Linked DNA regions of Homo sapiens: region 2 is linked to region 1. The links come from fine-mapping of genetic effects on gene expression. Tissue or cell type: whole blood. Region 1 holds a variant in brackets; the other region holds the start of a gene. All regions are shown on one strand. Distances are from middle to middle.

Region 1 (8,516 bases):
GTTCTAAATGGTTAGGTATTTGGCCATTCAGGGAAAGTAATATATTAACAGTGTGTGAATATTATTACTAAACTTGGGAGAATATGACAGTGGCATTTTTTCCTTCTTGTGTTTTATAGGATCTGATTTAATCTGTAACGACTATAATGAGCCATTATCATTCTGGGACATATCTTGAGTACTTTGTAATCCATAAACTCACAATTATCATTATGGTGTCCAATTTTCTTTTTAAAATATAGTAGCATATCTTTTTATTTTTAATTTTCTTTTTATTTTCCTTCCTTCCCTCCCTCCCTCCTTTCTTTCCTTCCGTCCTTCCTTCCTTCTTTTTTCTTTTCTTTTCTTTTTTTTTCTTTTCTTTCTTTTTTCTCAGTCTTGTCTGTTGCCCAAGCTAGAGTGCAGTGGTGCAGTCTCAGCTCACTGCAACCTCTGCTTTCTGGGGTCAAGCAATCCTCCCACCTCAGCCTCCCTGGTACCTGGGACTACTGGTATGCGCAGTCATGCCTGGCTAATTTTTGAATTTTTTTTGCGGAAAGGAGACTTCACCATTTTGCCCAGGCTGGTGTTGAACTCCTGGGCTCAAGTGATTCTCCCACCTTGGCATTCCAAAGTGCTGGGGTTACAGGCATGAGGCACCACACCCAGCCTTACAATAGAATATCTAAAACATTTAAGGGATTTTTTTCTCTTTGGATAATTAATGATAGTTTCTATTTATGTTACAAGATAGTTTCTACTTATGTTACAATAATTATTCTATGGATAGAATTCTGTTACAATAAGTATCTCTATGGATAAAGCTACATTGATATGTTGTTGCTGGCCCATGTGAGAGAGGCATTTCCTAGGTAATGCTTGCTGCCACTCACAATCTCAAAGCATGTGCTTCAGTTGAAACAAACAAATTACATATCATGGATCTTTAAATAAGTCTTGACTGTTCAAAACAGTGAAGGTGAAATTCTTAGTTGCTAAGGTCTATTATGTTTCTACTTATTTGTTTACAATACTTATTTAAATAAAAAGAGTACAAGTGTTTTAGTTATTGCAATTGAATAATAATAGTTATCAAAGTATTTATGAAGTGTTTACTTATTTACATAGACTTATGCAGATGGATGCTATTAAGACCAAATGCCTACACTTAAGGAGCTTAAGGTCAATTAAGAAAGTAATATTTATGTACATGAAAAACAATACAAAACATCATATAGTGGAGGACTAAATTTTTGGGGCTAGACTAAAATGGCATAGGAGAAGCATGGGCTTATTGTACATTGTTGTTGCTAGAGAAGGTTTTATATAAAATGTAAACTTGAGCTGAGCCTTGTTATTAATAGGATTTGCATTAGAAGAGAGAGTAGAGAAGGATGTTTTCACCATCCATTTACACATTAATTCGTTCACAGGATATTTATTGAACACTTTGCCAAACGCTATGATACACACTGGGGAGACAAGCATTAAACAAAATTTCGTCAAGAGTTTATATACAAAGAAGAAGTAGAGTTGGCTATGAATGAGAGGCTTAACCTTAACAGTAGAAACAGGGACAGCTTTCTCCTTCTTTTTTTGAGATGAAGTCTAGCTCTGTCACCCAGGCTGGAGTGCAGTGGCTTGATCTTTGGCTCACTGCAACCTCCACCTCCCATTCAAGGGATTCTTCTGCCTCAGCCTCCTGAGTAACTGGGACTACAGGCATGTGCCACCACGCCCAGCTAATTTTTGTATTTTTTTTTAGTAGAGACGGGGTTTCACCATGTTGACCAGGCTGGTCTTGAACTCCTGAGCTTGTGATTTGCCTGCCTTGGCCTCCCAAAGCGCTGGGATTACAGGCGTGAGCCACCACACCTGGTCGACAGCTTTCTTAAGGAAGTGACATTTTGAAGTGTTGAAAATTATACACATTGATGTACGTTCAAAGGAGAGTGAGGAAATGGATCTGCCTGGAACAGGGATTCAAAATGTCCTTGATATTTATGCTTTTAAAATGTCTTCTAGGAGTTGTATAGGGCATCCTGTTAGATACAAGTCTCTTCCAAAGAGTTGAGAAACAAGAGTGGTGAGCATAAAATGTGGCTCAAACAATTGTTATAATTCCCTTTGTTAAACGGCCATATACTGAGTGTGATTAGTTGTGTGTTTCATGTCAGGCAGGATCAAGTATTTCTTAAGTTAAATTAGACACTTTGGATTGGATGCCATCAAGAGGGTTGGGTATCATTCTGGACTCTGACTCAGGACTTTTATATTTACTGCAAGATTTATGTCACCAGATGGCACCATTTAACTAAATTTATGTGCTTTAGATGAGTATGAGGCTGGTTGTTTCTAAATGAAGGATGCTATTATTTGTGCTGTAGCTAATATAGGAAAAAAATCTTTTATTTTGAGTGCATATGAGATTTCCCTATATAGTGAGATAGTGAAACCCCAAAGCTATTGTTGGGAGTGTGAAAGGATCTGGTGATTTCTGTTAAGTACATAATAAGTGAAAATTTGGTGATGATCACTGTAACTAATATGTGGTAGCTGGCAAAAAAGCAATAGGCTTTCTCATCTAGGTTTTCCTATAGCAAGCAAACTAGTATTATTAATATTATAGCCTTGAATTTTACTTTTTGTTGTTGAACTACTTTCAGGGAATTTATATATATATATATAGAGAGAGAGAGAGAGAGAATATAAAAAAAATTCTAAAAGATTATTTTAGGAATAAGCCCTTTCAAGATGTCCTGAAATAGCGTAGTAATATCTAAAAAAATTTTTCAATATAGAATATGTTTTACTGAACTGTGGAACTAATCAAGTTAATAGAATGTGATATAGACATTATTTCTTAGTATAAACATCCATCCCAAGGAAATGAGTATTTATTACTTGGTCAAAAACTTCTTAATATTTTCTACCTTTAAGCAGAATTAATCACTTCTTCCCTTATGTTTCTATGGTATTTGTTTATATTTCTGGCACAGCACTTATTATATTGTACTATTGTTTATTGATTACATGTTGCTCTCCCTCAGCAGACTGTGAGCTTCTTGAATGCAGGGACCAGTTCTAATTCAGCCAAATCTGGCATGGAATGAACAGTTCTTCATTAAATTTCTTTCATTTGAAAAAATACATTTGATCTCCCACTATCAAAGAGACACCACATTAGGCTCTGGGGTTTTAGTGATGAGAGAGATGTACACCTTGTTTTCATGGAGCTCATTGTCTACTACATTAAACAAGTAAGATATTAAATAAGTATAATTGTGATGAGTCCTTTGAAGTAAATGGTTATTTGGATTAAACAGTTAAAATCATTAGAAGTTTCTTGAGCTGATCAAATTCATATTATTATACTATATTAAAAAATGTTTAGATACTACGCAAAAGTAATTGTGATTTTTACAATAATTTTGACTGGGCACAAACTCTCTTGAGCAGAATGTGGGGGCAAGCAGGAACTGCGGCAGAAAGGAGAGGAGGAGTCATGGGGGACAATGTGGGCAGATGGGGAGGGGTGTAACCTGAAAGCCCTGCTTGCTTTCTCAGCTGGGAAACTTATAACTTGGGGCTAGGTCTGAGTCCCATGTGCAGGCTGCCTGGAGACAAACTCAGTGGTTTTAGATGGCACAGTGGGAGTGAGACAGGCCTCACCAACTGGGTAAAAGCTGGGTGGGGCCTATCGCTACTGGCTTTCCCTCACTTTCCTGGCAACAGAGGCAGCCATAATCCCCTTTGGAATTTAACCCGAGAACCACCCCTCCCACACCCCCACAGTGGCTGCAGCAAGCCCCACCCAAGGGGAGTCTGAGCTCAGATCTGCCTAACCCTGCCCTGACTTGACAGTATTTCTCTATACCCAGTAGTGGATCATGAAAGACATAAACTTTTGGGAGCTTTATGACCC[C/T]GCCCATTACTTGAGAAACCTGAACACTTATCTTGGTCAACTTAGGGCAAGCTTATATCCCCCCTCTTCTATCACAGCTGGTGCTCTCTTGAAAGCACCACCTTCTGCCTGTAGTCTGACCAACTCAGGACGTTGCAGCAACTCAATGACAGAATAACGCTGCTCCAAGGAAGAGGAAAACAACAGCTAATTCCGTGTGCCCTGCAACATCCTGGCTAACCAGTGGTCCTAAATCTGTCCACGTGACAGTGTCACTGCTAGCATAACCAGCATTTGAGAAAGCCAGCACACTAAACATATCTACAACCAAGGACTCTCACAGAGTCTATTTCACGCCCCTGCCACCTCCAACAGGGCAGGCGCTGGTATCCATGGCTGGGAGACCTGAAGGTGGATCGCATCACAGGACTGTTTGTAGACATTCCCCAGCACCAGCTCGGAGCCTGGTAGCCGTACTCGGTGGCTAGACTCAGAAGAGCAATACCAGTCACTGCAGTCTGGCTTGCAGCAAGCCTCATCCCTAGGGGAAGGGGCAGTGTACCACATCAAGGGACCACCCCATGGGACAAAAGAATCTAAATAGCAGCCCTTGAGTTCCAGATTTTTCCACTGAAATAGTCTACCCAAATGAGAAGGAATCAGAAAATATGACAAGATGAGGTTTTACAACACCCCTAAGAGACCACACTAGCTTCATAGCAATTGATTCAAACCAATAAAAAAAAATCTCTGAATTGCCAGATAAAGAATTTAGAAGGTTGATAATTAAGTTACTCAAGGAGATACCAGAGAAAGGGGAAAACCAATTTAAACAAATTTAAAAAACAATACAGGATATGGATGAAAAATGCTACAGAGAAATAGATATTGTAAAGAAAAAACAATCACAACTTCTGGAAGTGAAAGACACGCTTAGAGAAATACAAAATGCACCAGAAAGTTTCAACAATGATGTTGAATGAGTAGGAAAAAGAATGTCAGAGCTTGAAGACAAGGCTTTCGAAGTAACCTAATCCAAAAAAGACAAAGAAAAAAAAATGAACAAAGCCTCCAAGAAATTTGTGATTATGTTAACCAAACCCAAGAATAATTGGTGTTCCTGAGGAAGAAGATAAATCTAAAAGTTTGGGAAACATAATTGAGGAAACCTTGCCTGGCCTCACCAGAGAACTAAACATCCAAATACAAGAAGCTCAAAAAACACCTGGTAAATTCATCACAAAAAGATCATTACCCAGTCACATAGTTGTCATCAGGTTATATAAAGTCAAGAACAAAGGAAAGAATCTCAAGAGCTGTGAGGCGAAAGCATCAGGTAACCTATAAAGGAAAACCTATCAGATTAACAGCAGATTTCTCAGCAGAAACCCTATAAGCCAGAAGTGAATTGGGGTCTATCCTTAGCCTCCTCAAACACAGTATATTTCAGCCAAGAATTTTGTATCCAGCAAAACTGAGCTTCATAAATGAAGGAGAGATAAGGTCATCTTTCAGACAAACAAATGTTGAGTGAATTCATCACTACCAAGTCAGCACCACAAGAAATGCTAAAACGAGATCTAAATCCTGAAACAAAACCTCGAAATACACCAAAATAGAACCTCGTTAAAGTGTAAATCTCACAGGGCCTATTAAACACTAACAAAAAGAAAAAACCCAAGATGTTCAGGCAACAGCTAGCACGATGAATAAAACAGTACCTCACATCTCAGTACTTATGTTGAATGTAAATGACCTAAATGCTCACTTAAAAAATACAGAATGGCAGCATGGATAAAAATCCACCCACCAAGTATCTGCTCTCTTCAAGAGATTCACTTAACGCATAAGAACTCACTTAAGGTAATGGGGTGGAAAAAGATACCCCATGAAAATGGAAACCAAAAGTGAGCAGGAGTAGCTATTCTTATATCAGACAAAACAGACTTTAAAACAACAACAGTTGAAAAAGACAAAGGGAGACATTATGTAATGATAAAAAGATCCATCCAACAAGAAAATATCATAATCCTAAATATATATGCACCCAACACTGGAGCTCCCAAATTTATAAAATAATTATTACTAGACCTAAGAAATGAGATAGATGGCAACACAATAATAGTGGGGGACTTCAATGCTTCACTGACAGCACTAGAGAGGTCATCAAGACAGAAAGTCAACAAGGAAACAATGGATTTAAACTATACCCAGAACAAATGGACTTAACAAATATTTACAGAACATTCTACCCCAAAACCGCAGAATATACATTCTACTCATCAGCACATGGAACATTCTCCAAGATAGACCATAGGATAGGCCACAAAACAAGTCTCAATATTAATTTAAGAAAATCAAAATAATATCAAGTACCCTCTCAGACCACAGTGAAATAAAATTGGAAATTAACTCCAAAAGGAACCCTCAAAACTATACAAATACTTGGAAATTCAATAATCTGCCCCTGAATGATCTTTAGGTCAACAATGAAATCAAGATGGAAATTAAAAAATTCTTTGAACTGAACAATAGTAGTGACACAGCTTGTCAAAACCTCTGGGACACAGCAAAAGCAGTGCTATGAGGAAAGTTCATAGCATTAAATGCTTACATCAAAAAGTCTGAAAGAGCATAAATAGGCAATCTAAAGTCACACCTGAAGGAACTAGAGAAACAAAGAAAAACCAACCCAAACCTAACAGAAAAAATAAGTAACAAAGATCAGAGCAGAACCAAATGAAATCAAAACAAAAAAATACAAAAGAGAAATGAAACAAAACCTGGTTATTTGAAAGATAAACAAAATTGATAGACTGTGAGACTAACCAAGAAAGGAAGAGAGAAGATCCAAATGAGCTCAATTAGAAACGAAATGGGAGCTATTACAACTGATACCACGGAAATACAAAAGATCATTCAAGACTGTTCTGAACACCATTATGTGGACAAACTAGAAAATGTAGAGGAGATGGATAAATTCCAAGAAATATACAACCCTTCTAGATTAAATCAGGAATAAATAGAAACTCTGAACAGACCAATAACAAGCAGCGAAATTGAAAGAGTAATTAAAAAGTTACCAACAAAAAAAAGTCCAGGACCAGATGGCCTCACAGCTGAATTCTATCAGACATTCAAAGAATTGGTACCAGTCCTATTGACAGTATTCCAAAAGATAGAGAAAGACGGAATCCTCCCTAAATCATTCTGGGATTTACCAAAACCCAGAAAGGACATAACAAAAAAAGAAAACTACAGACCAATATCCCTGATGAACATAGATGCAAAAATCCTCCACAAAATACTAGCTAACAATATCTAAGAGCATATCAAATGGATCATACACCATAATCAAGTGGTTTTCATACCAGGATGCAGGGATGGTTTAACATCTGCAAGTCAATAAATGTGATACAGGTTGGGTGTGGAGGCTCACGCCTGTAATCCCAGCACTTTGAGAGGCTGAGAGGGTGGATCATGAGGTCAGGAGTTCAAGATCAGCCTGGCCAACATGGCAAAACCCTGTCACTACAAAAAACATATACAAAAAAATTAGCCGGGCATTGTGGTGCACATCTGTAGTCCCAGCTACTCCAGAGGCTGAGGCAGGAGAATAGCTTGAACCTGGGAGGCAGAGGTTGCAGTGAGCCAAGATCATGCCACTGCACTCCAGCCTGGGTGACAGAGTGAGACTCCATCTTAGAAAAAAAAAAAAAACTGTGATATATCACATAAACAGAATTAAAAACAAAAATCACATGATCATCTCAATAGATGGAGAAAAAGCATCTGACAAAATCCAGCACTCATTTATGATTAAAACTCTCAGCAAAATTAGCACAGAAGGGACATACCTTAAGGTAATAAAAACTGTGTATGACAAATCAACAGCAAACATTATACTGAATGGGGAAAAGTTGAAAGCACTCCCCTTGAGAATTGAAACAAGACAAGGATGCCCATTTCCACCACTTCTAGTCAACATAGTTTTGGAAGTCCTACTTAGAGCAATCAGACAAGTGAAAAAAGAAAGGGCATCCAAATTGGAATTAAAAAGTTAGGTAGGGCTCATATAGACCAAAGGAGCAGAACAGAGAACCCAGAAATAAAGCCAAATACTTAAAGTCAACTGATCTTTGACAAAGCGAACAACAACATAAGGTGGGGAAAGGACACCCTATTCAACAAATGGTTCTGGGATAATCGGCAAGCCACATGTAGAAGAATGAAACTGGATCCTCATCTCTCATCGTATATAAAAATCCACTCAAGATGGATCAAAGACTTCAATCTAAGACCTGAAACCATAAAAATTCTAGGAGATAACATTGGAAAAACACTTCTAGACATTGGCTTAGGCAAAGACCTCATGACCAAGAACCCAAAAGCAAATGCAACAAAAACAAAGATAAATAGATGGAACTTAATTAAACTAAAAAGCTTCTGCATAGCAAAAGAAATAATCAGCAGAGTAAACAGACAACCCACAGAGTGGGAGAAAATCTTTGCAGTCTATACATTCGACAAAGGACTAATATCCAAAATCTACAGGGAATGAAAACAAATCAGCAAGAAGAAAACAAGTAATCCCATCAAAAGGTGGGCTAAGGATATGAATAGATAATTCTCA
Region 2 (5,000 bases), 220 kb before region 1:
AGCCAGGAGATACACCAAAGTCTGTGCATTTAACCTTACACCATGCTATCCCTACCCTCTTGCCTTCCCCTTCAATGTCAACCTAGAATTCTCTAAAGTTTAAGTGTCACTTATATGTAAACCATTTTGAAGGGTTCCTATGGGATAAGTGGAACAGGCCATTGCTGACTTGATATGATCGTGTTAACCAAGGCTTTTTCAGTGCACTGTATGTGCAAGGCATCATGCTAAACATGTGCATCTTCTTTTAATCTTCACAGTAGGCCTGAGAGAGCAGTGCAATTATTTTCTCTCTAACAAATGAGCAAACTGAAGCACAGGGAGGTTGAGTAATTGGTCTAAGGTCTTATTAGAAATTGACATTTCTAACAGCATTTGGATCTTGGCCAAGAGCTCTAAGATTTAGTCTCTGAGCCATACAAGATTTAGATGAATTGGGAGCCATAACAAGACCCTGCCTTAAAATTTCTCCCCCACTTGCCTGCCCCACAACCTGAAGCAAGGATCCTGTGACCCTCTCTAGCATTTAGGCATTGCTATTTGTTTCCAGGGGACGAGTGATACTGGGAACAGCATGTATTTAGTTCCTTCAAAGTCCTATGCCAGATGATACAAGGCACCCAGAGGTGAGCAAGACCCAGTGCCTGCCCTCCAGAGCTAGAGAGGGGCAGGAAGGGGATAACCAAGGCAGGTGCAATCAACAATAAAAGTGAAGTACCAAAAGCATCTGAGGTCACGCTACTCCCCTGCCTAAAATCATTCGCCAACAGCCATCACCAACAGGACACAGCCTGCTTCCCTCAGCAAGGCAGGTACAGCCACTCCTCCAACATCTGCCCACCTACCTCCTTAGCTTCATCTCTGCCTCATTGTCCCAAATCCTGTGCAATAGCCGTGACATATGACAGGCATCTCCATGTCTCTGCCTGCCTCTCTGTGCCCAGTCTTCTGTCACCCCTTCAATCTGACCTAATTTGTAGCCCTCCTTCAAGACCTACCTTGGTCACATTTGTATTTTTTATTGTCCCCCTCCTTCAGCGTAGTGACTCTACAACACTTTGTCAACCTATTATAACACTTACCCTAAAATGAAATTATTTACAAATTTGTTTCTTCAAAGGCAAGACCAGTGGCTTATTCCTCTTTTGCATGTGGCATGCTCACCCAGCACAGGGACACACCAGGCTCTCAAAGGCTGAAGGAAGCCAGAATACACATCTCTGCACAGTGCCAGGACTCTTGGGCCAGGCTAGCAGCCTGCACTGGGCACTAACTGAAGCCCTTGGGGATAAGTATTTGTAAGTTTGGGAGAAGGAAGACCTTTGGAAGAACCAAAGGCAGACCTGGGCCACCCTCAGTTAAATGGACAACACTAGTCCAGGAAATGATAAGGAAAAAGGCTTTAAGGTTCATCTCCTTCAGAGGTTTGCCTGGGCTGGCCCCATCATGGGTAACTTGTAAAAAATAGGTCGTGATACAATTTTTAAATTATTTTATTTATTTTTTTGAGACAGAGTCTTGCTCTGTCACCCAGGATGGGGTGCAGTGGTGCGATCTTGGCTCACGGCAGCCTCCACCTCTCGGGTTAAAGCGATTCTCCTGCCTCAGCTTCCTAAGTAGTTGGGACTACGGGCGCTCGCCACCACACCCAGCTAATTTTTCTTTTTTCTTTTCTAATTAGAACAGAGTTTTGCTATGTTGGCCGGGCTGGTCCCGAACTCCTGACCTCGGGTTATCCACCTGCCTCGGCCTCCCATAATGCTGGGATTACAGGTGTGAGCCACCGCGCCCGACCACAATATTGTATTTACTGTATTGCATTGTCTGCCTCCCTGCCACACAGCGTCTTCCAGGAGCTTACCAGTCCTCTGTGCATACCCCAGTAAGTAGCTCAGGCAGTGCATGACGCCCTCACCTTTCTCTAGGTATTATTGTATTTTAAAGCATCACTTCATTTAGTCCTCTCAACAACTTTTTTCCCCCCTTCTTCTATTTCACATGTGAGGAAATTGACGTCCCGAGGGTTAAAGCAAGTTACCCCATGACCGGGCTCCATACCCTCCGCGCCCCTTTCCCTGCGCGGTGGCTGTCCCTTCTCGGAGTGCAGAGGCTCCTAGTGCTCCACACTCTCGGGCTCCAAGGCCCCCTAACGCGCCGTGATAAAAATAATAATAACAATAACAACAGTGCTGCTTTATTTGCACAGAAAACAGGTTGTTTCGGGGCAAGGTACACTTGAGAAGGAGGCTAGGAACCGGAGAGAAGCAGCAGGCGGGGGCGGAGGGCGAAGGGAGGGAAGGGGAGAGGGCAGGGGCTGGCAGGCGCTGTGTGCCGGGCGAGGAGGCCGGGGCGGGCCGGGGCGGGGAGCGGGCGAAGCGCCATTGGCCCGAGCACCCGGGACCGGCCCCACCGCACCGCCCGCCGGGGGCGGGGGTAGCGGGGAGGGACTCGCGCACGCCGCTCTGCGTTGACAGTGCCGGGCGACACCCGGGCCGTGCCGCCAGCGTCCGTCGGGAGAGTGAAGGCTCGCAACGCCTTGCCCGGGGGAAGGTAACGCGCCGCGCCCGGGGCTGCGCGGTTTGCACCGCCAGGCCGAGGGCTGGGGGCCAGAAGACAAGAGAGACGGCGAGGCGCGCTCCCTGCCCGGCAGCGACTCGGAGGTGCGCACTCGGGTTCCAGTCTCTACTTGGCCCACTCGCTGTGTTACCTCGGGCAACTTTGTTTCCCTCTCTTGGTCTCTGCTTCCTCCTCTGTTAAGTGAGGGAGGTGGTGTAGAATGTTGTTCCTTAGTCTAACCAGTTCTAAAATGGGAACTGCGTTTTGGCACGGGGAAAGCTCCTTTCCTCAGTTTCCCACCTACTCCAGAGCCACCTCCGCTGCCCAGGCGGCCAGGAAGCTGGGATGCCCGGGTAGGCGAGGGTTCTGCTGAGCTATCGCGTTTTCTAGGGCTTTCAGGGACTGACCTGGGCTTGGGGCTGGGTGCTGGGGAGACCTGGCTGCAGAGTAACTGCCCCCAGATTGCTCAGGTGCAGAAAGGTAGGAGCGTCAGCACCTGTTTACAGGTGGGGTGTTGGGAAGGGCCGGCCAGGGGATGATGATTTCTCCTTTGAAAATAAGACGTGTTTTGGAATTCTCTTCCATACCCACACCTCGTCCCACGGCGAGCTATAAACTACACGAGTGGGCTTTATCATCCTTTGAAGTGGAAAAGCGACTGTTTTTAGCGTCTAAGACACAGGGCTCCACCAGCATATAGGAAGTGGGTCTCTCTTTCTCTGCACCCATCCTGCCGCGTCTTCCCTTTCTTTCCTCCTCTCTTTATAAATCCCCTTTGACCTTGAGGGGCTCCACTTCCTGCCTTAATGAAAAGTTCTTCTTTTCATTTAGTGCTGGTTTGTGACCAGCAGCCTCCAGGGCTTTGGGCGCAGGGTTGAGATAGAAGCCTAGATAAGAACAGGCTATGAATCACCCTGTCAGCCCCCTGAGCCACACAGCCCGGCAGGGATGTGCAGAGGAAGCCCGGTGGGGCTTCAGACAGATAGACCCTGGAAGGTGGGGTGGATGCAAACTGCCATCCAGCTTCCCGTCCCCTTGTTGGCAGCCATTCCCCACCAGGATGGTGACCCCTGCTGTCTGCTGGATGGAGCAGCCAGATAGAGTAGGATGATTGAAAGGAGCTGAGGACTTGGCTGGATTTCTATGGAAGGTCTCCAGCATTTCCCTTCCCTCACTTTCCTCCACCCCTGAAGTTCTGCCCCTTCTCACCCTTAGTGTGGTATCCAGGTGAAATCAGATTGCAGAACCCATCAAGAGCAGCTAGGAAGGAGAAGAGGTGTGGGGACGGCAGCAGGGCAATGTTGACTGCTGTTTAGTGGGCACTTACTATGGGCCAGACACTTCTTTGTATGTAATATATCCTTAATTCTCACAAAGCCACATGAGGGGTGATGTACTATACCCTATTTTATAGGTGAGAAACAGGCTCAGAAAGATTGCTTCCTTTAGTCACTTAGCTAGGAAGTAGCATAGCTGGAATTCAAATCCAATCTCTGATTCTAAAACCTGTGTTCTTTACACTGTCTTTGTGCTCCTTAAGTAAGAGCAAGCTGGAATAAGGAGAGCAAAAATGTCTAACATTGTGTTCTCACCAGGTGTCAGGCACTATGCAAAACATCTTAGAGCTATTATGTCATTTATGGTGCAGGAGTTTCCGTTATTCTGGAGGTAATCTGTGACTGCCTTAGCCTCTCAGCAGCAGTACTGTTCTAGAAGGCCTACCCTAATCCTGCCCAGCTGCTAGTGCGTGGGTGGGGCAGGGCCCTGTTTGCTTTATCCTAGAGGTGGTTTGGGGTCTAATGAAAGATTGATTGTCCACATCTGACCCGTTAGCCCTAACCGTTGGCTGGTGAATGATTCCACTGTCCCCTAAGAGGCCTTTTTCAGGTTTTGCTCAATAAACATTTGTGGAATGAATGAATTAGCACCTTGTGCAGAGTGGTCTGCTGCCTTGTAGAAATGTGAGGCAGCCTAGGGGAAGCCCAGGTTCCACCATCTTCAAAACCCAGATGCTAGTCTAGGTGTTTCTCCTCTTTGGGCAAGGGAGGTAGGGTGAACTGTGCCTGTATAGGCTTCCAGAGCTCCCTGGAAATATGTTTGCTTGTCACCTGTTTTACAAAGAATTTTTAAACATACAGTAGATGAAGAAAAATGTGGCTTTTTTTTTTTTTAAATTAAGAGGAAAACTTACTTGGTATTAATGAGGTTGTCACTCTCTCAAAAGTTGGGGGGATAAGATTATAATGTTTGTCTTAGGGCTTACCAAACTTTTCCATAGAAGATCCTGCAATGGAAAAGAAGACCAACACATGCTCCTGTGCTTATGCAATTTTTTTCATTTGATTTCATAATATATGGACTTTGATTTAAAAATATAAAGTTTTTTCTTCAAAATATCTGAATAAAACTGGTGTCCTGGCAGATTGTTATATATTCTTAGGGGC

What was found. PIP is the estimated chance that this variant, and not a neighbour inherited with it, causes the effect.
Region 2: it holds the start of SYTL2, and the variant in region 1 is fine-mapped to the expression of SYTL2 in whole blood (INTERVAL, PIP above 0.99).

What each region holds. Positions count from the first base shown.
Region 1 is chr11:85,584,803-85,593,318 of GRCh38, reverse strand. The region is part of intron 3 of DLG2 (discs large MAGUK scaffold protein 2); the gene reads left to right. Among named protein-coding and RNA genes, the nearest start is that of DLG2, 38 kb to the left of the region's middle. The variant C/T (reference allele first, on the strand shown) is at 3,905.
Region 2 is chr11:85,808,614-85,813,613 of GRCh38, reverse strand. SYTL2 (synaptotagmin like 2) reads left to right here and starts at 2,473. Exons shown (of 20, transcript NM_206927.4): 1 at 2,473-2,660. RefSeq lists a silencer at 2,335-2,514.